Linked DNA regions of Homo sapiens. The protein of the gene in region 7 interacts with the protein of the main gene of each other region in a pairwise test. Each region holds a gene or a part of one and is shown on either strand. Other genes may lie near its edges.

Evidence for each region.
Region 1: the proteins of NUP58 (region 7) and AKAP9 interact in binary tests that used the Homo sapiens proteins (3 or more experiments, as listed by UniProt).
Region 2: the proteins of NUP58 (region 7) and STAM interact in binary tests that used the Homo sapiens proteins (3 or more experiments, as listed by UniProt).
Region 3: the proteins of NUP58 (region 7) and ARHGAP29 interact in binary tests that used the Homo sapiens proteins (3 or more experiments, as listed by UniProt).
Region 4: the proteins of NUP58 (region 7) and ASIC4 interact in binary tests that used the Homo sapiens proteins (3 or more experiments, as listed by UniProt).
Region 5: the proteins of NUP58 (region 7) and PIGP interact in binary tests that used the Homo sapiens proteins (3 or more experiments, as listed by UniProt).
Region 6: the proteins of NUP58 (region 7) and BCAS2 interact in binary tests that used the Homo sapiens proteins (3 or more experiments, as listed by UniProt).

Annotation. Positions count from the first base shown.
Region 1 is NC_000007.14:92,003,362-92,006,861, forward strand, and holds part of AKAP9 (A-kinase anchor protein 9), read left to right. Parts: intron 1-3,500. UniProt on the Homo sapiens protein: Scaffolding protein that assembles several protein kinases and phosphatases on the centrosome and Golgi apparatus. Required to maintain the integrity of the Golgi apparatus. Required for microtubule nucleation at the cis-side of the Golgi apparatus.
Region 2 is NC_000010.11:17,710,151-17,713,650, forward strand, and holds part of STAM (signal transducing adapter molecule 1), read left to right. Parts: intron 1-3,118; coding exon of another isoform or gene 3,119-3,230; exon of another isoform or gene 3,231-3,500. UniProt on the Homo sapiens protein: Involved in intracellular signal transduction mediated by cytokines and growth factors. Upon IL-2 and GM-CSL stimulation, it plays a role in signaling leading to DNA synthesis and MYC induction. May also play a role in T-cell development.
Region 3 is NC_000001.11:94,227,585-94,231,084, forward strand, and holds part of ARHGAP29 (rho GTPase-activating protein 29), read right to left. Parts: intron 1-3,500. UniProt on the Homo sapiens protein: GTPase activator for the Rho-type GTPases by converting them to an inactive GDP-bound state. Has strong activity toward RHOA, and weaker activity toward RAC1 and CDC42. May act as a specific effector of RAP2A to regulate Rho.
Region 4 is NC_000002.12:219,513,225-219,517,481, forward strand, and holds the start of ASIC4 (acid-sensing ion channel 4), read left to right. Parts: upstream 1-1,500; coding exon 1,501-2,082; intron 2,083-3,471; exon of another isoform or gene 3,472-3,862; intron 3,863-3,980; exon of another isoform or gene 3,981-4,044; intron 4,045-4,257. UniProt on the Homo sapiens protein: Does not exhibit measurable stand-alone pH-gated sodium channel activity but may form pH-gated heterotrimeric sodium channels. Its activity could also depend on alternative gating mechanisms.
Region 5 is NC_000021.9:37,067,473-37,070,071, reverse strand, and holds part of PIGP (phosphatidylinositol N-acetylglucosaminyltransferase subunit P), read left to right. Parts: intron 1-447; coding exon 448-520; intron 521-2,599. UniProt on the Homo sapiens protein: Part of the glycosylphosphatidylinositol-N-acetylglucosaminyltransferase (GPI-GnT) complex that catalyzes the transfer of N-acetylglucosamine from UDP-N-acetylglucosamine to phosphatidylinositol and participates in the first step of GPI biosynthesis.
Region 6 is NC_000001.11:114,567,057-114,569,336, reverse strand, and holds the end of BCAS2 (pre-mRNA-splicing factor SPF27), read left to right. Parts: intron 1-1,080; coding exon 1,081-1,207; 3' UTR 1,208-1,780; downstream 1,781-2,280. UniProt on the Homo sapiens protein: Required for pre-mRNA splicing as component of the activated spliceosome. Component of the PRP19-CDC5L complex that forms an integral part of the spliceosome and is required for activating pre-mRNA splicing.
Region 7 is NC_000013.11:25,325,625-25,329,124, forward strand, and holds part of NUP58 (nucleoporin p58/p45), read left to right. Parts: intron 1-1,291; coding exon 1,292-1,410; intron 1,411-1,805; coding exon 1,806-1,888; intron 1,889-3,500. UniProt on the Homo sapiens protein: Component of the nuclear pore complex, a complex required for the trafficking across the nuclear membrane.

The DNA.
Region 1 (3,500 bases), on a different chromosome or scaffold from region 7:
ATTTTAACTTGAGCCTATCATTTATTTATCATTTAAGTACTTTTTTTTTTAAACCATTGTTGCCTTTCTTTCAGTTAATCTATCTTGTATATTCTGCTCAGGAAATAAAACACTAATGGATTCAGATTTTCTTTGGAAAGACAAGAGTTTGTATAACTTTATGGAGAATCTCAGCATTAGAAAAGTTATTAATTTCATTTTGTAATTTTTGTTATAATCTCAAAGATTGGTTTCAGCGTTTTTATTTCATAGTGATGTTTTCAAGTCTCTACAACTGAAAATGAACTCCTAAGCTTTTTAATAGTCTCTATAGTTGTTAGGTGGTTATGAAATTATATTTTCCTGGGAGAAAAAAAAACCTTTGATTTAAGTCCTAGAGTTTTTTCAGAGTCTTTATTATACCTGAAGGGGAAAAAACAGTATTAACTCTAAATATAGTTAAAGAATTATATGTATATAATAATAGATCACTCCTGATAATTTATATTTGCCAGATACTGATATTAAAATAACAGGAAAATTCTGCTATCTACAATGTAATGGTGCTAACTAAAGTTTTATGTGTTTCTTCATTTTTCTAACATATTTATTGACTCTCTTGGCAAGTACGAATATAGTGGCCAACAAGAGAGAGGTTTCTGGTCTCAAAGAGCATATATTTTAGTGAGGGAGGCAGATGATAAATGAAACAAGTAGGATAGTGAGAAATAGTGATAAATTCTCTGAAGAAATAAAACAGGATAATGTGATAGGGAATGATGGAATTATTTCTGAGGGCTCTGTTCTGTTCCATTGGTCTATATCTCTGTTTTGGTACCAGTACCATGCTGTTTTGGTTACTGTAGCCTTGTAGTATAGTTTGAAGTCAGGTAGCGTGATGCCTCCAGCTTTGTTCTCTTGGCTTAGGATTGACTTGGCAATGTGGGCTCTTTTTTGGTTCCTTATGAACTTTAAAGTAGTTTTTTCCAATTCTGTGAAGAAAGTCATTTCTGTGAAGAAAGTCATTCCTGATGGGAATGGCATTGAATCTATAAATTACCTTGGGCAGTATGGCCATTTTCACAATATTGATTCTTCCTATCCATGAGCATGGAATGTTCTTCCATTTGTTTGTATCCTCTTTTATTTCGTTGAGCAGTCGTTTGTAGTTCTCCTTGAAGAGGCCCTTCATATCCCTTGTAAGTTGGATTCCTAGGTATTTTATTCTCATTGAAGCAATTGTGAATGGGAGTTCACTCATGATTTGGCTCTCTGTTCGTCTGTTGTTGGTGTATAAGAATGCTTGTGATTTTTGCACATTGATTTTGTATCCTGAGACTTTGCTGAAGTTGCTTATCAGCTTAAGGAGATTTTGGGCTGAGACGATGGGGTTTTCTAGATATACAATCACGTCATCTGCAAACAGGGACAATTTGACTTCCTCTTTTCCTAATTGAATACCCTTTATTTCTTTCTCCTGCCTGATTTCCCTGGCCAGAACTTCCAACACTATGTTGAATAGGAGTGGTGAGAGAGGGCATCCCTGTCTTGTGCCAGTTTTCAAAGGGAATGCTTCCGGTTTTTGTCCATTCAGTATGATATTGGCTGTGGGTTTGTCATAAATAGCTCTTACTATTTTGAGATATGCCCCATCAGTACCTAATTTATTGAGAGTTTTTAGCATGAAGTGCTGTTGAATTTTGTCCAAGGCCTTTTCTGCATCTATTGAGATAATCATGTGGTTTTTGTCTTTGGTTCTGTTTATATGCTGGATTACACTTACTGATTTGCGTATGTTGAACCAGCCTTGCATCCCAGGGATGAAGCCCACTTGATCATGGTGGATGAGCTTTCTGATGTGCTGCTGCATTTGGTTTGCCAGTATTTTATTGAGGATTTTTGCATCGATGTTCATCAGGATATTGGGAATGTTGGAGAGGGTAGTAACAACATTAAATATGGTGGTCAGGAAACATCTCTAGGAGGAATTGACATTTGAGCTGAAATCTGAATGACATTGAAATTAGAGCAATTGTAAAGACACGGGTAAGTTTAAAGAACAGAATGAAGGCTTGTGTAGTTGAGTTTGAGAGAGCGGGAGAGTGGAAGAAGAGTTTGAAGGAGGAAGAGACCAGACCTTGGAGAATCTTGCAGACTTTGGAAGCCATTGGAAAGTTTTCTCTTTTTATTCCTAAATATATCATATTTATGATCTTATATCAAATGTCGAGATATTTTATATTTATGATTTATATCAAATGTAGAGATATTTTATATATTTACTTGCCTAAATAGAGTCAAGAAATTCGAATTGCTTAACGATTTTTTTGTTTGTTTGTTTTTGAGACCGAGTCTCACTCTGTCACCCGGGCTGGAGTGCAGTGGCGTGATCTCAGCTCACTACAACCTCCGCCTCCCGGGTTCAATCAATTCTCCTGCCTCAGCCTCCTGAGTAGCTGGGATTACAGGCATGCACCACCACCACGCCTGGGTAATTTTTGTATTTTTAGTAGAGACAAGGTTTCACCATGTTGGCCAGTTTGGTCTCAAACTCCTGACCTTAGGTGATCCAACAGCCTCGGCCTCCCAAAGTGCTGGGATTACAGGCGTGAGCCACCATGCCTGGCCAAATTGCTTAACTGTTAATGTTCTGTTAAATGTCTGGAATTGTTTTCAAAACCAAAATGTATGGCAGTTACTTGTGAAAATGTCACACATCTTTTAAAATTTTTTAGGAAGCATTTTTGGGAGAAGACCTGAATTTGACCCTCAGATGGTCAAATTTTCTTATTAGGAATTCTAATTTTCTTTTTCTTTTTCTTTTTTTTTTGAGACAGGCTCTCACTGCCGTCCAGGCTAGAGTCTCATGGCGCAATCACAGCATCCTGCAGCCTTGACCTCCTGGACTCAGGTGATCCTCTCACCTCAGCCTCCTGAGTAGCTAGTATTACAGGCATGCACCACACACCCAGCTAGGTTTTTGTATTTTTTGTAGAGACAGGGATTTGCCATGTTGCCCAGGCTGGTCTCAAACTTCTGGGCTTAAATGATCTTCTTGCCTTGGCCTCCTGAAATGCTGGGATTACAGGCATGAGTCTTTGTCACCAGCCAGAATTCTATTTTCTGTACTAAAGAGATACTAAAAAGATACTTTTGATGGCATTCAGATTCCCTCTATTTGACATTGACTACATAAAGTAAAGCCTGTAAACTTCCTGCCCGTTCATCATTACCAAGACAAACCTTTATTGATGGGAAGGGAAGTTCACAGAAGAAATCGAGCAGTGACTTACACAATAGTAACACCTAAGAGCAGCCTAAATATGCTTGAAATAATGTGGATGCCACACAGATATCTCTAATACACTTAGGTAGTTTGGGCAGAAGGAGAAAAATAAAAACATCATAGAAGTCTTTTCAGTGTTGGGATGCAAGGAAGAAGGAAGAGTGGCAGGAATTTTTTAGATACTGATTAATTATTGATGCTGGGAGAGGTCATAGATTGAAGTGTATGTGTTTAA
Region 2 (3,500 bases), on a different chromosome or scaffold from region 7:
GCCACTTTTCCCCTGCTAGTCCTCTGTTTGACTATGTCACATGCTGCTCTACCTTCCTTGTTACTAGAGATTACTTGAGACTCATTCTTCAAGGTCGGGGCCTTGGGAAATTATCCTTGTGAATGAGATAACCTGTTGGTAGGTGCTTTAACAGTGAAGTTCTGTAGCGCTGTGGTACCCTGCTGCTGTTCTCTGTGTGTGACTCTGCTTCTGCATTCGGGATGTGAAATCCCTGGCATAGGCCCAACCCTACCCATAGAGTGTAGCTATTAATGTCACCTCTCAAGGAACACATGTTTATTTCAACAGGTGTCTTTTGAAGAACATTTTCTTGAAATATTTAGCCCTCTCGTCCTGGCTCATTCCTGCATATTCTTTAGTTGTTAGCTTAGCTGCATTTTTACTGGGACATCTTCCTTGCTTTTCCACCTCTCAGCACTGTTCCTCCTGTGTGCTGTCAGAGGACTGTGTGTGTACTTCCGTTTCCTGGCTGGTAGTTGCCTTTTTACTTGTTTGTATCCCCACTGAAGACAGTATCTTGAGAGCTGGCACTGTCTTTCACCTCTATAGCCATCCTATGTAGCACACAGTTTTACACTGGCTAGGAACTCAGTAAATATTTTATGAATACATGTTTTAGTGTTAATGACAATTTCAAGTGCTATATTAGACCAGTTAGGTGTATTTTTTAAAAATTCCTTGCAAAGGCTTCACAAAGGCTTAGAGGCCATTTAAATATCTATATATAAAGGTACAATATGTAATATCTGTTTATCAATATATAAAAACAGATGTGTGTTTGTGTGTTTCAACGGGGAAATGAGGAATTGCTGGTAGAGCAAATGTAGGATGAGGAAATTGGAAGGAGCGAGGGCCAGGGTTAGAAATTTCCTTACTAGAGGTGTCCTGCGTATTTGACTCGAGCTTTCTAGCGGCAAATCAAGGTCAGTGAGGATTGTTGTTGTTTTTGGTAGGCAGGTTTTTTAGCACTCCTCAGTTTATATATATCTGAGAGGCTATCTCTTGTTACATAAAATTTTGGTGTTAAAGCTCACTGTTTTTCAGACTTCTGTCATCCTAGGACAGTCTTATTGTTAGTTGGGGAAGGTGTCACTGATGACGGTTTTCTAAAGCTACCTGTAGCGATGGTAGTATTATAAGGTGATAATAAGTGACAATTACTGTTAGTATTTTGAGACCACTGAAGCTTATGTATTTATTTGTCTCTGATTTTAGTTTACTACAGTCAGCATGTGCCAGGCACTGTGTTAGACACCTGAGAGTCTTCTTTAGCTTCAAGGTGCTTACTGAGTAGTAGGGGCAAACACATAAAAAAATATAATTTTATACAACATGATTTATAAATAAAGAAGATATATGCCTTGTACCTTAGGAGCCTCAGGGTTTGAGGAAGTTTTCCAAGAGGGTTATTCTTAGCCAGTAGAAAAAAAGTGAGGAAGATGTTCTGTCACGTCAGAGATGTGGTAGCCTGGAATGGCATGGTACCCATGGAGTGAGCAAAGATGGGAGGTGTGAAAGGCGTGGTATGTATCGGCATTCCAGCAGCACACTTACCAAGGGTTGAAAGCGTGTAGGGGAGCAGCGAGAGACATACTTGAAGACACTGCCAAGGTCGAAGAATGCTTGTTCTAGATACCATCTTAGGGATAATGAAAAAGTTCAGAAAGGGCTTTAAATGGCAGTAGCGTAGATGGATTCATAGGGGCAAGATTAGAAGCTGGGAGACCATGGATATTAGGCAAGAAATTATGAGTATTTGTTGGCAAGATACAGTGCTATTAATTGGAAAGAGTTATTTAGGAGATTAGCAAATAATTACACATTGGGTGACATGGTTGGGAGACAGCTCAGTGCAGAGATAAGAGAAAGAAGTATTGGTGAATTGCATGGTTTTGCCCCAGGCAACTGGGTGGACGGTGGAACTGTAAATTGAGAATGATTACAATAATGCTAACATTTAAGGGGTATTTAGTATGTTCCAAGCACTGTGCTGTATGCTTTACACAAAGTAACTTATTCCTCATAATAACCTGTGAAGTCGGTAAACTATTACCCCCATTTTATAGATGGGGAAGCTGAGACCTGGAGACAAAACGGAAGTCCCACTTAGCTAAGATTCTAAACCAGACATTCTGACTCCAGAACCCAGCGCATAGACTCTATATTACGGCAATATTATAGCCCATACCATTGTCAATAATAGTATGAAATTTGACATCTCCTAATCAACTTTATATCTCACACATATGGAGTGATGACAAATAATGCCTTAGGTCACCACATTAGTTGGAGAAATGTAGCATTAAATTACCGTCTCTTATAATAAATTACCATCAAATAATGAATTTGTGCCAAGTACAAGAGCACTGAATTTCCCAACAATAGATTTATAAATAACAATTGGAGGAAAGTTTAGAAGTAGGCAGTATTTTGAAAATTTGGCAGTTGCTTTTTATATTGCTTGTTTTACATTTTTAATACAAATGTAGGGGGAATTCTCAGCATCTTAGTACTTCTCTTCACATAGCTAACCTAGTGTCTTACAGTGGAAACGCATGTATTCCGTTGGAAACAGGAAGACAGGAAGTAGAGGCAGTGGATAAAGACAACCCTTTGAAGAATTTTTTTCTTTCTTTTTTTAATGGGAGCAGTGCACAAGTGCAGGGACTTGAGATGGGAGTACTGGCAGCGGAGCGGTGGGAGCGGTAGGGAAGCTCAGTACGTGAGGGGTGCAGCTGCAGAGAGTTGATCAGTGTGGTGTTGGAGCGTGTGCTTCCGTATTTTCAAGGAAATAAAAGAAATGAGGTTATGAGGCCTTCCCTTCCACTAGTCCTTTGGGACCGTTCTTGTCAAGAACCCTGGTGATGCCCATACTGCTAGACTCCCGGTCAGTTCACCATTCTCCTCCTCCTCCATTTGACAGTTCGTGATTCCCTCCTCTTTTCTGAAATGCTTTCTTCACTTGCTGGTGACCATTCTCTTTTCCCTTCTGCCTCACCGCCACTTCTTCTCAGCCTCATTTGCCTCTTGCCTCTTTATCTTCTGGACTTCAAGGTCCAGTGCACAGTAGATGGACTGCCTTTTTCTCTGTTTGCAGCCGCTCCCCAGGGGACCTCATGAAGCCCGGTGATTCTGAATGCCGTGGATCTGCCGAGGATTCCCAGATGCGTATTTCTCCTCCGTACTTCCCCACAGGACAGCAGGCTTGAATAGCTGATTGCCTATGCAGGACAACAGGCTTGAATAGCTGACTGCCTATGCATTCTCTTTGCTTGCCAGTTTTTTGGACATCAAACTTGACAGATCCAAGATTATTACTTTGATCTTCCCCACACCCCTCCCACCCCCGAGTCTACTATGGTCCCATCATAGTATTCTGAAAATCAGTGAATGGCCACTCTACCAGTTATTTCTACCAGTTTTTAGGTTCTAAACCTCAGGCATTCTGGACTCTTCTGTTCATTATCATATTTTGAAGG
Region 3 (3,500 bases), on a different chromosome or scaffold from region 7:
TTTATACTATTCTTTCTAGCCCAATTAAAAGGCCTTTACATTTTCCACATTCCCAGATTTTAGCTTCCTTGAGTGATATTCCACATGAAAATGGGGAGGTATGTCACAATGGCAGACTTTAAAAATTATTACATAAACTTGAAAAGCACTTATGAATCTGTTATTTAGAATTTAGAACACGTTATTCCACAGGGAGGAAACCATAAACCTGAATTGGTACTTACACTGCACATATATTAATCTACAGTGTTATAATTAAACACAACATGCATATGCATAACTGAGTGCCTTCAGCATTTTCATATAAGATAGAACATTTACCTTGTAATTACTCCTAATGTACCTTAATGACACTGGATAAAAAAACTAAAACTTCAAATTCCACATCTGCTACTTGTATAAGACTACAAGGTAACCTCCTCCTGGAGGTTAAGTAGTGGAAAGAGAATTACCAAACTCTGTCACTTAACTTACCCCAGCAAGAATAGAATATTTTCAGCCCTCTAATCTTCCACATTAAGCTCTCTATTTTAATTTGTAAATTAGAAAATTAGAGATAAACCGTATATGTATCTTAACCCTGTTGGGAGTACAGAGCTCTTTGGCAGACATTTATATTTTTTCTAATCAGTTCCTCAATGACGATTACAATATGAGCTTCATATTCTCACTTGGGAAATTTTCATTAATTTGTTTTCATATAATTTGAAAACAAATACTTAGCTGTCTTCTTAGGAATAAACTGCCAACATTCAGAACAATGTATAATCTCCAACTCTAATCAAATTTTGAATCACAGATTCGTAAAACTGATAGCATCTGGTACAAGTGCCTCATTCTTAACAAAAAATTAAATGAATTAAGCCATATTCCAAAGCTAGTCAGTAGAACTAGGCCTAGAACCTAGATTCTGATTCTCTTTTCAGAGCTTTTGCTGCCATCCTTTACTACCAATTTAACCAAACCATATAACCTGGCCATTATTTATCAGCAATAAGACATTGATGAAATCAAAAGTTATACATACATCTCATCTGTGAAACGGAGCTAAAGGTACCTGCCTTTGAGGGGCCTGGGTGATTAAACTTGTTTGTATGACAAAGTACTCTGTAAAATGAAAAGCGCCATATACAATTATACATCATTTCTAACTACTTGGGGAAAGTAAAATGTGGCCATAAACCAATCACAAAGCTGTTTATCTAAGACTAGCCTCAACCTATGATTAAACAACTGCGGCAAAAGTCAAGTGACTGCACATTAGTGCTTCAGTTAGTAATAAAGGTATTAACAGATAAAAGTTATTACAGAAAAAATGTATTCTGACTAAACCAAAAGATGATTTAATTGTATATCTACATTCTTTATTCTTAAGAGCTGCCTTTTTAGCTTAACAAACGTGAATTAAAAGGTAATAAACAATGCCAAAAATATGGCATCTTCCTCTTAAGGAGACAATACACAAAATATTGGGAGGGCTACTGAGAAATTACTGACAAGGCTCTTCCACTCTAAAAGAAAAACAGTGAATGAAATGGCTCTTTGCTGTCTGGCCACACTTTAACGTTGTGGTGATAACTCAGAAAAGAAGTCCAGGGATATTTCTCAATACCCAGAGACAAAAAGCAGGGCTCATGACTATAGGGATACATGTAATAATACCATCTTAAATAGTTAGAGCATTTTAAACATTTTACCTTTCCTAAAGATTACATCTCATGAGATCTTTGTAATACTTTTATTAAGTAAATAAGGAATAGTCTGATACTCTAAGCTGAAAATCATCAAAATTAAAAACAAGCACAATATTATGTAGCATTTTCCTTATCTTTTATAATGAGGTCCATTTATGTTTATAAAACAAAAAGGTTCCATCAACTCAAATTAACTAGTTTATTTCTAGATTTTGATAACGATATTTCAAAGACAAAAAATCAACCCAAAGGTAAATAATGAACATCCTCTGGCCACTGCATACTACTGAGTTGGTTATCAAAAAAACAGTTTATCTATTTTGTAATTAATTTCCTGGCCATAAATTGCAAACTTTTTGATAATGTCCTTATGAATTTTTAAAATTAAATTTCAGTGTATGTATTTCCATACATATCCCTTTACCTCAGGGGGTAGTCTCTTTCTGTATCTTATTTTTTTCTTTTCTCACTTAGGGTCAACTTTCAGTTGACCTTCAGTATTCTCTGAAGTGTCTGCTCACAATTTAAAACTCTTATAAAAATTTTTTTTGGAGATAAGTAGTCCAGCTTGTTTTAAATTACTATCATTTTAAATCTGTGACACAAGGATAATTATGTAAAATGAAGATTTTTAAGAGATATAAATCTTTTAAGGAAAATAACTAAAAACAAATAGAAATCTTAACTAAAAATCTTATTTATACTAATAAAAATGCATTTAAATTGAGGCATTAAATAAAATCAGGTTTTACACCTTAAATCAAGGTAAATGACTTGTCAACTAATACATCACTTTAAATTTCACCTTAAAAATCAATCCAGTTAATGAACTGCATATCAAGAAGTATACATTTTATTGTTTATAAATTTAAAAAATTAACCTAGTTAAGAACAAATTGTTATTACAAAGCTATGTTTCTTTAAATAAATGGCAAATTTATCATTTTGGTAAATTTACTACCATTATAATACTTAATGTAGTTAGGATATCTTTCCACAATAACTTTAGGTAACTTTACTGCCATTTAATCATCCACAATCAGACTTCAAAATCAAGCTATTAAAATGAATGGGAATATGAACAACTTTTCTAATATGTATACATTCTCAAAAGAATCACTTATGTGATTGTTGTTTTAAGGAAAACTCAAATACTAAAACTTTGAGGCTTCAATTCCAGTCATTTTGGGCATTTCAACCTGAAAATAACAGATTAGAAATTAACTCTTAAATTTAGTACAAGCACAAGATACAATTTTGGTTTTTCAAAATGTCCATCAGAAAATAAGTATTTAACTTATATATATACATAGAAATATTTATTGAAATCTTACAAATTTCTATAAAGCCCCAAGAGGTCTCATATAAATAACACTGAGAATCTTCATTTTTATATCTAGACATACCATTATGAATATGGAAATGAAACTGCCATTTATCATAGAAGAATAGGAGCTGTTTTTGTAACTATTTATTATCCTTGCCATCAAATTTAGACCTAAGAGGCACTAAACATTGAAAGACAGGTACTAAGAACAAGTCAGAGATATACAATCTTTTACTTTAGAGGAACAGAGTCTCATGCTCCATTATTCATTTCTAACTAGACAGAATTCTGTGATTAGCCCTTAATTCAAGATGTTACAGATCAGCAAAACAGAATTAAGTCTGATTTTTGTTAAAAAAAAAAAATGCAGTCATTTTAGATACCAAAACTTCATCTAAAATGTGGAAAGGTGAATTTAGGTAACAGTGTCAACAATGTAAATTATAAACATTAGTCAGCTTATTTAAGACCAATCAATG
Region 4 (4,257 bases), on a different chromosome or scaffold from region 7:
ATTAATCAGCCCCCCTTTCCTCCCGGGGACAAGGGCTTCCTCCCCCGTGAGGGCACATGCTGTCGGATGGGGCCCCAGAGCACAAGCACTGATTCTTGCCACCCCCACCCTGGGGGCATGGATGCATCCCCTCCTGGCCAGTCAACTGAGGCTCCCACCCCCACCTATGATGATGGCCCACATGCCTGTTCCCCTCCACGAGAACACAGCAGACCCCTTAGGGCTCTCCTGCCCCACTCTGCCAGGCACCCCTCAAACCCCTTTCTTTAGGAGAGCATTCGCTCCCATTGACGCCCAGCACATCTTCCTGCTCCCTTCCACGCCCCCACTGGGGCTCTTCCTCTCCCTCCATTGCATGCCCTGTCCCCCTACATATAGAGCACCCCGGAAGCACACCTCCCCTTTGCTCCCTGGCTTGCTTACCCAACAGCCCTCCCCCGAAGCCTGGTTGTGGCAAGGGATTTGGGGAACATTTGGGGAAGCAAAGTGGCCACAGATATGCAAGCTGGCCAGGGTGCTGTCTGTCCCAGACATATGAATGACTGAGATTGGGGTTGGGGGCAAAATGAGGGTGAGGGCAGCCAGCCTCCCAGAGGGGGCAGGGGCATGGTGGGTGTTGAAGTCTGGAGCAAAGCTCCAGGGAAGCTGAGAATCTTGAAGTCACAGTTGTCCCCTGGTCTGTCTAGCCTGCCCTCCTCTGCCCCCCTCCCTCCGTCATTCAAACAAGTGGCTCTCTCAAGGAGTTTCTGGAAGCTGCTGTGAGTCGGGTAGTGGGATCAGGTGGTGGCTGGGTGCTGGAGTCAGGAGTCTCAGAGGCCAGGAGGTGGGGGGATAGAGTTGGCTGACCCTTCATGGGGTGTGGGCCAGGAAAGTGGCAAAGAATGAGCTGAGGACCCTGGGCACGGCACCCTTCCCTGGGTGGCCAGGAAGTGGGGAGATCTGGGGACCCAGTGAGCGGCTAGGGTGCAGCAGGAGTTTGGGGGATAGCCCCAGTCTTGGGATCTCTGTCCTGGGCTGGGGACTGCCCCCTCCCCTGGCCTGGCTCCTGACGCCCGTGCTGCCGGTGAAACGCTGTTGACATGTCCTGAATTATTAAGCGTGGGGAGGGCTCCGGAGCACATGCTGAGCGGAGCGGCTGGGGCTGCGCGGCGTGGCGGAGCAGCGCTCGCTCCCTCGCTCACTCGCTCGCTCGCAGGGACACACGCAGGGGCTGACAGCTGTGCTGGTGCTGATAAGGGAAGCCACAAGGAGACGATCGAGGAGAGAGACAAGCGGCAGCAGAGGCAGCAGCGGCAGAGGCAGCACCAGGGCTGCGGAGCTGCTGGGAGTGGGAGTGACTCCCCCACCTCGGGCCCCCACCCTGTCCCTGTCCTCTTCCCGCTTGCCCTGAGTTTAGAAGAGCAGCCGCTGCCACCACTGCCACTCGGGAGGGCACCAGGGCTGCTGGCTAGGGAGGGACAGGGCAGGGAGGCTCTGGCCAGTCCCAGCAGCCGGGGACAGATGCCGATCGAGATTGTGTGCAAAATCAAATTTGCTGAGGAGGATGCGAAACCCAAGGAGAAGGAGGCAGGGGATGAGCAGAGCCTCCTCGGGGCTGTTGCCCCTGGAGCAGCCCCCCGAGACCTGGCCACCTTTGCCAGCACCAGCACCCTGCATGGACTGGGCCGGGCCTGTGGCCCAGGCCCCCACGGACTGCGCAGAACCCTGTGGGCACTGGCCCTACTCACCTCGCTGGCTGCCTTCCTGTACCAGGCGGCTGGCCTGGCCCGGGGCTACCTGACCCGGCCTCACCTGGTGGCAATGGACCCCGCTGCCCCAGCCCCAGTGGCGGGCTTCCCGGCTGTCACCCTCTGCAATATCAACCGCTTCCGGCATTCGGCACTCAGCGATGCCGACATCTTCCACCTGGCCAATCTGACAGGGCTGCCCCCCAAAGACCGGGATGGGCACCGTGCGGCTGGCCTGCGCTACCCAGAGCCTGACATGGTAGACATCCTCAACCGCACTGGCCACCAGCTCGCCGACATGCTTAAGAGCTGCAACTTCAGTGGGCATCACTGCTCCGCCAGCAACTTCTCTGTGGTGAGTTCTGCCAGCTGGGCTGCCTGGCCTTGGATGGCCGGAGGCTGGGGAGTGGGGAGGAGTGGTGGCAGTGGTGTACAGGGGCATCCTCAACAGGGCTTCCCTTCATTCCACCACCAGAGGCTGGCCTCGTGTTTCCCCAAGCCTGGCGTCTCCCTCTGGCTTCCCAGCCATGGAGCAGTGGCCGCTCATAGGGGCTTACCCTGGGGCGCCTGCTGCTCCTCTTCTTGGTTTTGCTGCTGCTGCAGTGCCCAGGTCTGGGAGTTGGGGTGGGGGTTCCTAGGCATGGGCCCAGGTGTCCTGGAGCTGGCTGGCTTGCAGGGAACGCACGCACCATCCCAAGGCCAGACCAACTGACTCTCACTTTTCTCTTGCTCCCTTTTTCTTCTGAGGCTACTGGATTCTTCCCACCAAACGAAGGAGATAGGGAGGGGAGGTTTGGGGGGCTCCATCTAGGGAAGGACCCCGGGTGGCCTCCTGGGGAGCTGGCCTGGTGGGCAGGCTGGAGAGACCCGGTCTTCAGGACACTGGGTGCCAGTGTCTCTTCTGGATCTCTGTGTGTCTCTCACATGCCTGCCTCACAGACTCCCTCACACATCCCTCTTTCATTCTGCCCTCCAGCCCTCCTGGGGTCCAGTCCCCCTCTGTCTCCTGTTCTAGCGGCTCCCATGCCCAGCTCTGGCTCTTACACTGGGAATCACTGGTTCACTCTTATGTGCATAACTCACCCTCACTGCTGCCCCAGCACGGGTGCATGCACACATGCACACGCACACACGCACACGCACTGCTGGGGGACACAGTTTCCTGCACACTCCCTCTCTCACTCACTGTCCCTGTCACTACACTCACATGCACACCTGCACACCCACACCCAGAGAGCTACTCATCTCCATGTCTAGCTCCCAGCTCTCGCTTAGCTGCCAAGGACAGGGTCCCACTGTGGATGCCATCCCTTCTCATGACACCCCCACCCCCATCTATCCCAACCGCTGCTCCCCATTTGGAGACTGCTGGCGCCATCTGTCACCTACGTGTGAGCACAAACACAAGCACCCTCTCCGGGAGAGGGGTGTGAGCTTGGGCTGCTCTGCCATGCACGCCTCCCACAGTCAGGTATGTGAGGGGGTGGGCGTGTCTTGTACACTGCCTGTCTGTCAGGGCTCCATTCACCCATAGTCACAGGGTATCTAGTATTCATGGCGCTCGAGATGCTTGTCCCTAGTCCACAGTTTGCTCCCAGCATTGTGTGTGCATGCGTGTATGTTTCATCCTCGTTGCCACTGCCCAGTGCATATGCAAATGTTTGGCGTCAACATGGTGCCCACTCCAGCCCAGCCTCCAGCAGCCAGCCCCAGTGATAGGGACCCCCGCCAGGTTCTCACTCACCCGCTGCCTCAGGATCACCAGGAAACATGCTCCAGCCAACGAGGTTCCTGGCCCCCACCATGCCTGCAGTGTCTGGGGCCTCCCGCCATTGGGCAGGGGAGTTAGGTAGAAATAGAGGGACAGGAGCAGGAGCATTGTGCAGGGAGAAGAGTCGGGGGCATTGGCCTGTTGTCCGGCTGTACACCCCCTTTCCTAGGGAAAAGCACTGCTCCCCAAAGCAAGGGTTGGTAGAGTCCCCGAGGAGGAGGTGGGATATGGAGGGTGAGTGTGGCCTTTGGGATCCATAGGGCTCTGCTGTCCTCAATCCTCACCACTCCGTATTGGGAGCTGGGCAGAGCTCAGTCTTAGCAGGTGCTGTTGGGACAGAAATCAATGGGATCTTTGTGTCCCCGAGCGGGAGTTGGGGGTGGGCAGGAAAGGGGAAGGGTGATGAGACCTCAGTGAGAGGAAAGGAGAGGAAGAGCTGGAGGGGGTGAGGAAGTAAGGGGAGGGAGGCAGAGGGTTCTGCTTGGTCTCCAGGCTAGGAGGCGGTGCCTGGAGGATACAGGAACGGGGATCCTCTGATCAAGGCTGGTGAGTCCCCGGAATCCTGGGGATGGCCTGGAGGAGTGTGGGTGGATTTCCCACAGGCCCTCTGGTACCCTGGGGCTGGAGAAAGGAGGATGGTAGAAGTCCGTGGGCTGAGGTTCTGGCCCTGGTGCAGGACAGTGGGGGTAGAGGGCATAGCTAGCATTGGGGGACAGGAATTCCCCTTTGGGATTTCCATTTCCCCTGTCTCCAGCCCAG
Region 5 (2,599 bases), on a different chromosome or scaffold from region 7:
AAATAACATTGTACTCTGGGAGATAGGGCAGAAGCTCAGTATGTGGTGGATGAGAACTAGGGTAGGTAAATTTCCCTTTGAGCAATTAAATGTCTATAATTACTTCAACCTTGTGGGGATGAAGTATTGAACACTTACTGTACCTAAAGCAAACTGCTAGGTAATAAGGATTACAACAATTGCTAAGCCATGATTTGTATCCTTGAATTGCTTAAAATATAATGTGAGTTAAGATATTAAAAAAAAAGACTAATACAGTAATTATAAGTATTATAAGAATTGTGCAAACGAGCTAGAAGAACTGAAAGGAGGAAAAAATCATTTCTGAGTTAATCAGGGACACTTCAAAAGAGCTTTTCTGTTTTATCTGAATCTTAATAGATTGATAGATTAGATGTATGTCTTACTGACTTCTCTTCCTCTTTTTTTTCTTTTTCTTTTCTACAGTACTTTACCTCGTGTGGGCCTTTATTCCTGAATCTTGGCTAAACTCTTTAGGTTTAACCTATTGGCCTCAAAAGTAAGTTTAATATATTTCTTAAATGAGGATATAATTAATGCTGTTTTGAGGAGTCATATCATTTCTTAAACCTACCCAAATCTTAAATATTTGTTCTCTTAAAATTCATGAATAGCCATATAGAAATTGAAAGCTTTTTAAAGATCGCTATTGATACATCTCTAATTAAAGATGGTAGCATGAACACACATGTTTATCTCCATCCATTTCCTCCAAAAATCTTGTTAAAATGACCCTACAGGAAAAAAAAAAAAAACTGAAGATACAAACCACAGAAACAATAGTATAGCAGAAAAGAGATATCAACCACATTTTGGAAAGTGGATTGTGATAGGTGAGAGGTAACTGCCTTTGTTTCTGTGATTTTCACGTTGCTGAAGTAGGGAAGCCAGCAAGAATATTTGTGCCTTAGAACTCCAGAATAGCTCAGACATTGGGGTACCAGGTAGCTCTTTAATTCTGGGTTGAACTGAAAACATGTTTAAAGACCATATGAAGTCTTCAGCCTTCAAATCTCCCTCAGCCCTCAAAGCTGGGAGGCCTGCCCTGCCCTCCCCTGCAGAAAACAGGAGTTTTACTCTCTGGCAAGGTTAAGTAAGAGTCTCTAGCATGGGGGCCACTAAGTCTGAGTGTGGGAATGCGGCATCTTACTGAAAACAGGGAAGTAAGTGAAAATCTACATGGCTTAATGAGAAGATTTACCTCCTGCTCCATCTTCCCTCTTGGGGCTTCGAGGCTTATATCACCCTACTGCTCACAGAAAAAGATAGATAGTTCTTTCCTGAGGAAGCTGACCAGCCCGAGAGAAAGGATCTATAATTTCTGACATTTAGAGGACCCCAGTGAAGTGGCCAAGTCTCTCAGAGTGAGGCTCACCAGTTGACCATCCCTGCCCACATACACATAGTGCTTCCAACTCACTTGTTAGCACTTCATTTTTAAATATGAATGGACTACTCTAAGTTACCAGACATTAAAAGAAAGCCTCTAGCATGAAATGAAAAAGCAGAAAATTAAAGGGAATTTGAAGGAAATAGAGATAATGCAGGAAACAGAAAAAAAAATTTAAATAACATAAAATTCTCAGAGGTAAGAAACAATTATAACTATGAAACAAGAACAGAATGCTATGCAAACAGGAAATTACTGTATTTGGAAATTGTAAACATGATAACCAAAATTAAAATTTTAATTGAAAGACTGGAAAATAAAACAAAGGTAATCTCTAGAAGTTAGAACAAAAAAAAATGAAAATATAAGAAAGTATAATCGTTAAAAATTCAAACTATTAGAAGTTCCAGAAAGAGAAAATAATAGAGAACAAATCATTTAAAAAAAAAAAAACATCTGGCCAACATCTCAAGACCCCATTTCTACAAAAAAATTAAAAATTAGCCAGGTGTGGTGGTGTGTGCCTATAGTCCCAGCTACTTGCAGGGCTGAAGTGAGCTCAGCAGATTGAGGCTAGTGATCTGTGATCATGCCGTTGCACTCCAGCCTGGGTGACAGAGGGAAATGCTTTCTCAAAAAGAAAAAAAAAACACTCAATGAAAAATAGCACTCCATGTACATAATGATACTGAGAGGCATAATAGAGTCCTATCAGAGAATTTGAGGCTCTGGTATTGGTGGATTCCTGGGAAACCAAGTGAACAGACAAAAAGATGTAATTATTCCAGAAAAAAAAAAGTTGTACAAGAAAATATATAATAATAATGTACTAAGATCCTCAGTTGCAAAATTGTTTATGTAGGTACAATTATTTCTAAAACCTGCTGCTATAATGAGAAATTGCAATGTAAGTATAGAAGAGGATAGGAGGAGGTTAATTCCTTATCTCCATATTAGGAAGCCTAGAGAAAATGTCTGTAATGGAAAAAAATGAGGAAATAGTAATATGAGCATGTTTTGTAGCAATGAGGAGGTAAGTACCAGAAGACAGCTCAAGTGCTCAAAGCATTTCTTTTTGGAGAGTGAGACCCCAGGGTTGGGATGGTGGGATAGAGGACTGCAGTTTTTCACTGTAAGCCTTGTGGAACTATTTGTCTCTTATGTACACATATTACTTTATAAAATTTA
Region 6 (2,280 bases), on a different chromosome or scaffold from region 7:
GCCATTCCCTTTCTCCCTTCATTACTCAAGTCATTCTTGTTCCACCGTCTCCATGTACGTCTTACCAGTCTCGTTGGTACCCTTTCACGCTTTTTCCTCAATTTAATAAACTATTGCCTCTTTCCTTTTTGTTGATTAAATACTATCTTCATCACTCTTTCCTCTTTCTTCTGGTTTGCAAGTTCTCTCATCTGTTTCTAATTTGCTTTTTTATTAAACTTTTATTTTTAGATAATTATAGATTCACATGCAATTGTAAGAAATAATACAGAGAGCCAGGTGTGGTGACTCACATTGTAATCCTAGTGCCTTGGTAGGCCAAGGTAGGAGGATTGCTTGAAGCCAGGAGTTCAAGCCAGCCTGGGCAACATAACGAGACCCTGTCTCTACAAAAAAATGCTTTTAAATGAGCCAGGCATGATGGCATGCACCTGTAGTCTAAGCTCTTCAGGAGGCTGAGGTTGGAGGATTGCTTGAGCTCAGGAGTTCCAGGCTAGTGAGCTGTGATCACACCACTGCATTTCAGCCTAGGCAACAGAGCAAGACCCTGTCTCTGGAAAAAAAAAAAAAAAAAAAAAAAAGAATACAGAGAGATTCCATGTACCCTTTACCTACTTTTCCACAATTGTGCCTTGATTTTTTTTTAATGGAAAGTTGAAAGTGAAGGTTAGGCCAGGCATGGTAGCTCATGCCTGTAATCCCAGCACATTAGGAGACCGAGGTGGGTGGATCACCTGGGGTCAGGAGTTTGAGACCAGCCTGGCCAACGTGGTGAAACCCCATCTCTACTAAAAATACAAAAAAGTAGCCAGCTGTGGTGGCGTGTGCCTGTAATCCAGCTACTCGGGAGGCTGAGTCAGGAGAATCCCTTGAACCCGGGAGGCGGAGGTTGCAGTGAGCTGAGGTTGCGCCATTGTTCTCCAGCCTGGGCAACAAGAGCGAGACTCCGTCTCAAAAAAAAAAAAAAAGTGAAGGTTAGTGTTATAGCTCTGGGTGAACATGTGTATACATTTAAAATAAAATCTTCTAAGAGAAGTTTTACATTGAGTAATTTTTTTCTTTTCTTCCCCCCCATTCTAGTTGGGTATCCCTGGTCAGTAAGAATTATGAGATTGAACGGACTATTGTTCAGCTAGAAAATGAAATCTATCAAATTAAGCAGCAACATGGAGAGGCAAACAAAGAAAACATCCGGCAAGACTTCTGAAAAGACAATTTAGCAGGTAGAAGAAAAGTTGGGCTTTCACAAAAGGCATCTGAACTTTTAATGAACTTTGAAGGACAACAGCATCTTCCCAAAACCATTGATGTTTAAGTGTTTAGAAATCATAGAAGGTGTAGGCTGCTGTGGTAATTCTATTTGTATATCTCAACAGAATTAAAATGTCTAGCTTGGTGGTATTTTTATAGCCATAAAAGAAAATCTTTAGGCTTTCAAAATAAGGATGACTTTAGAATAATATTGTGTCATAGAATTAATTTTCAGCCATGTGGACCATATTTTGTATCCAAGGATCCTTATTTAAAGCTTTCAACATGTACAGGAAGTTGGAAATTTTTGGTTTATGACTTTGTCTAATAAAGAGATAGTTCTAAACACATTCTTGATCACCAAACAACTTCAGAAAGACAGTGACTGTACAGTTATCATTATCATCATCATCGTCATCATCATAGGTAACAGTTATATCAAGCTTAATATGTGCTGAACATTGTTCTGAACACTTTAGGTAGATGAACTAGATGTATGTGAATAAAAATTATTTGGTCCTCACAAAAACCTCAGGAGGCGGTTACTGTTTTTCTCATATGTGGACATGTAACAGACACCAGTTAAATAACATAACTTGCCAGAGTTTTATAGCTGAAAGTGTCAGCTTTTTTATAGAAAGTTGTCAGTCAGGTTTTGAACCCAATAGTCCAGCTCCAGAGTTAATGTTCTTACTTCTCTACTTGTAAGGAATTAAATTGTGTAAAAGATTCCTGCCCAATTCAGAAAAAATATTTGCAACATATCAAAAGGTAGTGTTGCTAGGTGTGGTGGCTCACGTCTGTAATCCCAGTGCTTTGAGAGGCTGAGGCAGGAGGATCACTTGTGTCCAGGAGTTCAAGGCCACCATAAGCTATGATTGTGACACTGCACGCCAGCCTGGGTGACAGAGCAAGACCCTGTCTCAAACGAAGCAAGGTAGTCTTAATGTATAAAGACTGACTGAAAATTATTGCAAGGTCAGTGGCTCACACCTGTAATCCCAGCACTTTGGGAAGCTGAGGTGGGCA
Region 7 (3,500 bases):
TCACAAGATCTCTGTAGCTGTTGTTATTCCAGTTTTAGCGATAAAGAGACTGAGGTATGCAAAAGTGAGTTGAGTGGTGGAGGTCTGTTTGATTCCTGGTCCCTCACAATTAATTAATTAACTTGTAGAGATGCCATTTCACAGTGTTGCCTAGGCTGGTCCTAGGCTAAAGTGATTCTCCCGCCTCAGACTCCTAAAGTGCTGGGATTACAGATGTGAGCCACCACGCCTGGCCCCTTACTTATTTTATTCTTTTAGTTTTTTATTATAATTTTGGTCTACAGAAAAGTTTCAAGATGAGAACTAAAAATTCCTGTATGCCTTTCATTCCAATTTCCTACATATTAACATTTTTACCATATTTTTGTTCCTCACATTCTATGTGTGTATATACATTTCTCCCCCAAACAGTTTGGGTTATTTGCAGAAATAATGTTCACTATGCTAAAGTACTTCAGTGGATATTTCTTAAAAATAAGGATATTCTCATACTTAACAGTTCTCAAAATCAGGAAATTCATAATGCCCATGATATTCGTCTTACTCAGGTTGGCATGAGATGTGCTTCCTCACTGGACTTCCTCTACTATTTTATCCCTCTGTCTTGTACTTAATACTGCCATCAGAGCTAATTTTGCAAAATGCATTCATGGTTGCCCATTGTTTACTGAAAGACATTCAGATTCCTCTGTATACTATTCAAGATACCTTCTTTTTTTTTTTTTATCTGTCTAGCACTCTCTGTGGGTAAATTTATTAGAAAAGTAGCAATAATTACATGTGCTTTCTGTAGTATACTATGGTGTTCTCAGATTATAAATTTCATTGATAAAATGACTATAAATTCTTAATTCTGAAATCTGGTTGGTAGACGTTTCTACTTTATTTTAAATTTATTTTAACCTTACAGAAAACTTCCAAAATAGTAGTACAGAGAATTTATTTATATCGCTTCCCTTGCTTCCCCTAATGTTAACTTATAACTATAGTATAATTACCAAGAACAGGAAACTAAAATTGTTACAATATTATTAACTAAACTACTAAACTTACTGAAATTCAACCAGTTTTTCCACTAGTGTACTTCTGTTTCAGCATCCTATTTGGGATTCACAGTGCATTTGTAATTTCTCCTTAATATCTTCCAGTCACAGTTATTCAGTCCTTCCTTTCCTTGGATAACCTTGATACTTTTGAAGACTATTAAATGATTGCAGAATATTCCTTAATTTGGATTTGTCACTCCAAATTAAAAAAATATTTGATCTGACTTTTTAAATGTTTTTTAAAGCTACTTCAGAATCTTGGTTCAGCAATTTGAGGTACAGCTTCAGCAGTACAGGCAGCAGATTGAAGAACTAGAAAACCATCTTGCCACTCAAGCAAATAATTCACATATAACCCCTCAAGGTAACATGCTTACTGTGGTAATTTTTTTTGAACTTTTGTTTGTAGGAGATAGATGTGGTTATATAATAGGTATTTTGGATAACTACTGGTAGCCCCTTTAAGAAAATTTCCTTAAAAGTCATTTACTACTCCTTTATTCCCTATAAATATAATATGCTTTATTATATGAATTGTTACTGTGGTAACAAGGACAGAAATCTTAGGGCCTTCCCCCCAGATTTCTTTTGTAGACATTCAGTCTGCTACTCTGTGTGTTCTCTGGCCATGAGAACGTTGATAGAGTTTTTTTCTCCTACACGTTAACTGTGCCAAAAATTGGACTCAAATAGAAAAATAAAATGGATTGTGCTATATATATGTATATATTTGGGTGATAATGTAATTTTCTTTTATAGATTTGTCAATGGCTATGCAGAAAATTTATCAAACATTTGTAGCTTTAGCGGCACAACTTCAGTCTATTCATGAAAATGTAAAGGTAAGTTTTCATTACCCATTTATCTACCTGGATATGTAGACCCAAGTATTTGTTCATCTGGGGACAAATGTGTCCATGCTTGATACAGAAATAGCTAAAATTACATATAAGTGAAAAGATGAAAACTACTATAATCCATAACATACCCAGACATAACGATTGATAATACCTGTTCTTTTAAAAAAGATCCAAGTACGCTGTAGTCTGTTATTATAACTTTTTTTTAAGCAGTGCATTGTGAATAACTTTCTATGTTAATACACATATTTCCTGAATATCATTTTTAATAGTTAACATAGGAGTTTGTTGTATGGTTGTACATTGTTTAACCCATTTTCTGTTGGATATTTAGGTGGTTTCTATTTCTTTACTACTATAAATAGCACTATAGAAAATAGGCATTCTTAGTCAGGCACAGTGGCTTACACCTGTAATCCCAGCACTTTGGGAGGCCGAGGCGGGCGAATCACAAAGTCAGGAGTTCAAGACCAGCCTGGCCAATATGGTGAAACCCCGTCTCTACTAAAATTACAAAAATTAGCCGGGTATGGTGGCGGGCACTTGTAGTCCCAGCTACCTGGGAGGCTGAGGCAGGAGAATCGCTTGAACCCAGGAGGTGGAGGTTGCAGTGAGCCGAGATCACACCACTGCACTCCAGCCTGGGCAACAGAGCAAGATTCCATCTCAAAAAAAAAGAAAATAAGCATTCTTAGTAGCAAATGATTTTGTACTACCTTAATTTTATCTGTTTTAAGTGTTTATTGGCCACTGCATTAAAAACCGGCTTACAGCATTTCTCCCTTTTAAATACAGGGAACTGTTTGTGTTTATTAAATAGTGTAAATAAAATGATTTATCACTGAATATTTAGACTGACTCTCGCTTTTTTTTTTTTTTTTTTGAGACAGACTCTTGCTCTGTCGCCCAGGCTGGAGTTCAGTGGCATGATCTTGGTTCACTGCAACCTCCACCTCCTGGGTTCAAGTGATTCTCATGCCTCAGCCTCCTGAATAGCTGGGACTACAGGCACGTGCCACCATGCCTGGCTAATTTTTTGTATTTTTAGTAGAGACAGGGTTTTGCCATGTTGCACAGGCTGGTCTCGAACTACTAAATTCAGGCAATCCTCCCTCCTCGGCCTCCCAAAGTGCTAGGATTTATGGGCATGAGCCACTGCACCCAGCCTGAATATTTTGACTCTCATAATAACGTTAGTTTTAAAAATGTATTTAAGTGAAATGTTCAAGGTAAGTACATCTTTTCTAACTAACTGAGCAAATGTAATTAAACTCTTTAATCTTGGAGTGTATGTGGTCCAAAATACCTTTAAAATTCAAGCAGCGAAACCTGAGTCTAGATAAATTATCAACTGTGTAGAATAGAGTTTAATTGGAATTATCAACATTTTCATTTTTATTTTGATTTCATGCATAGTAACAGGATTTTTTTAAGTAAACCATTTAAATTACACCATTTTTGAAATGGTAGTGCACTTTAGACCTTTTGCTTTAGTAGATTTAAAACTGTAACCCAAATCTTTAAATTTTGTTCTAAAGGAGGAATTTTATCAGATTTAAAAAAATTCTATTAGTCTATAATAAATGTTACTTTA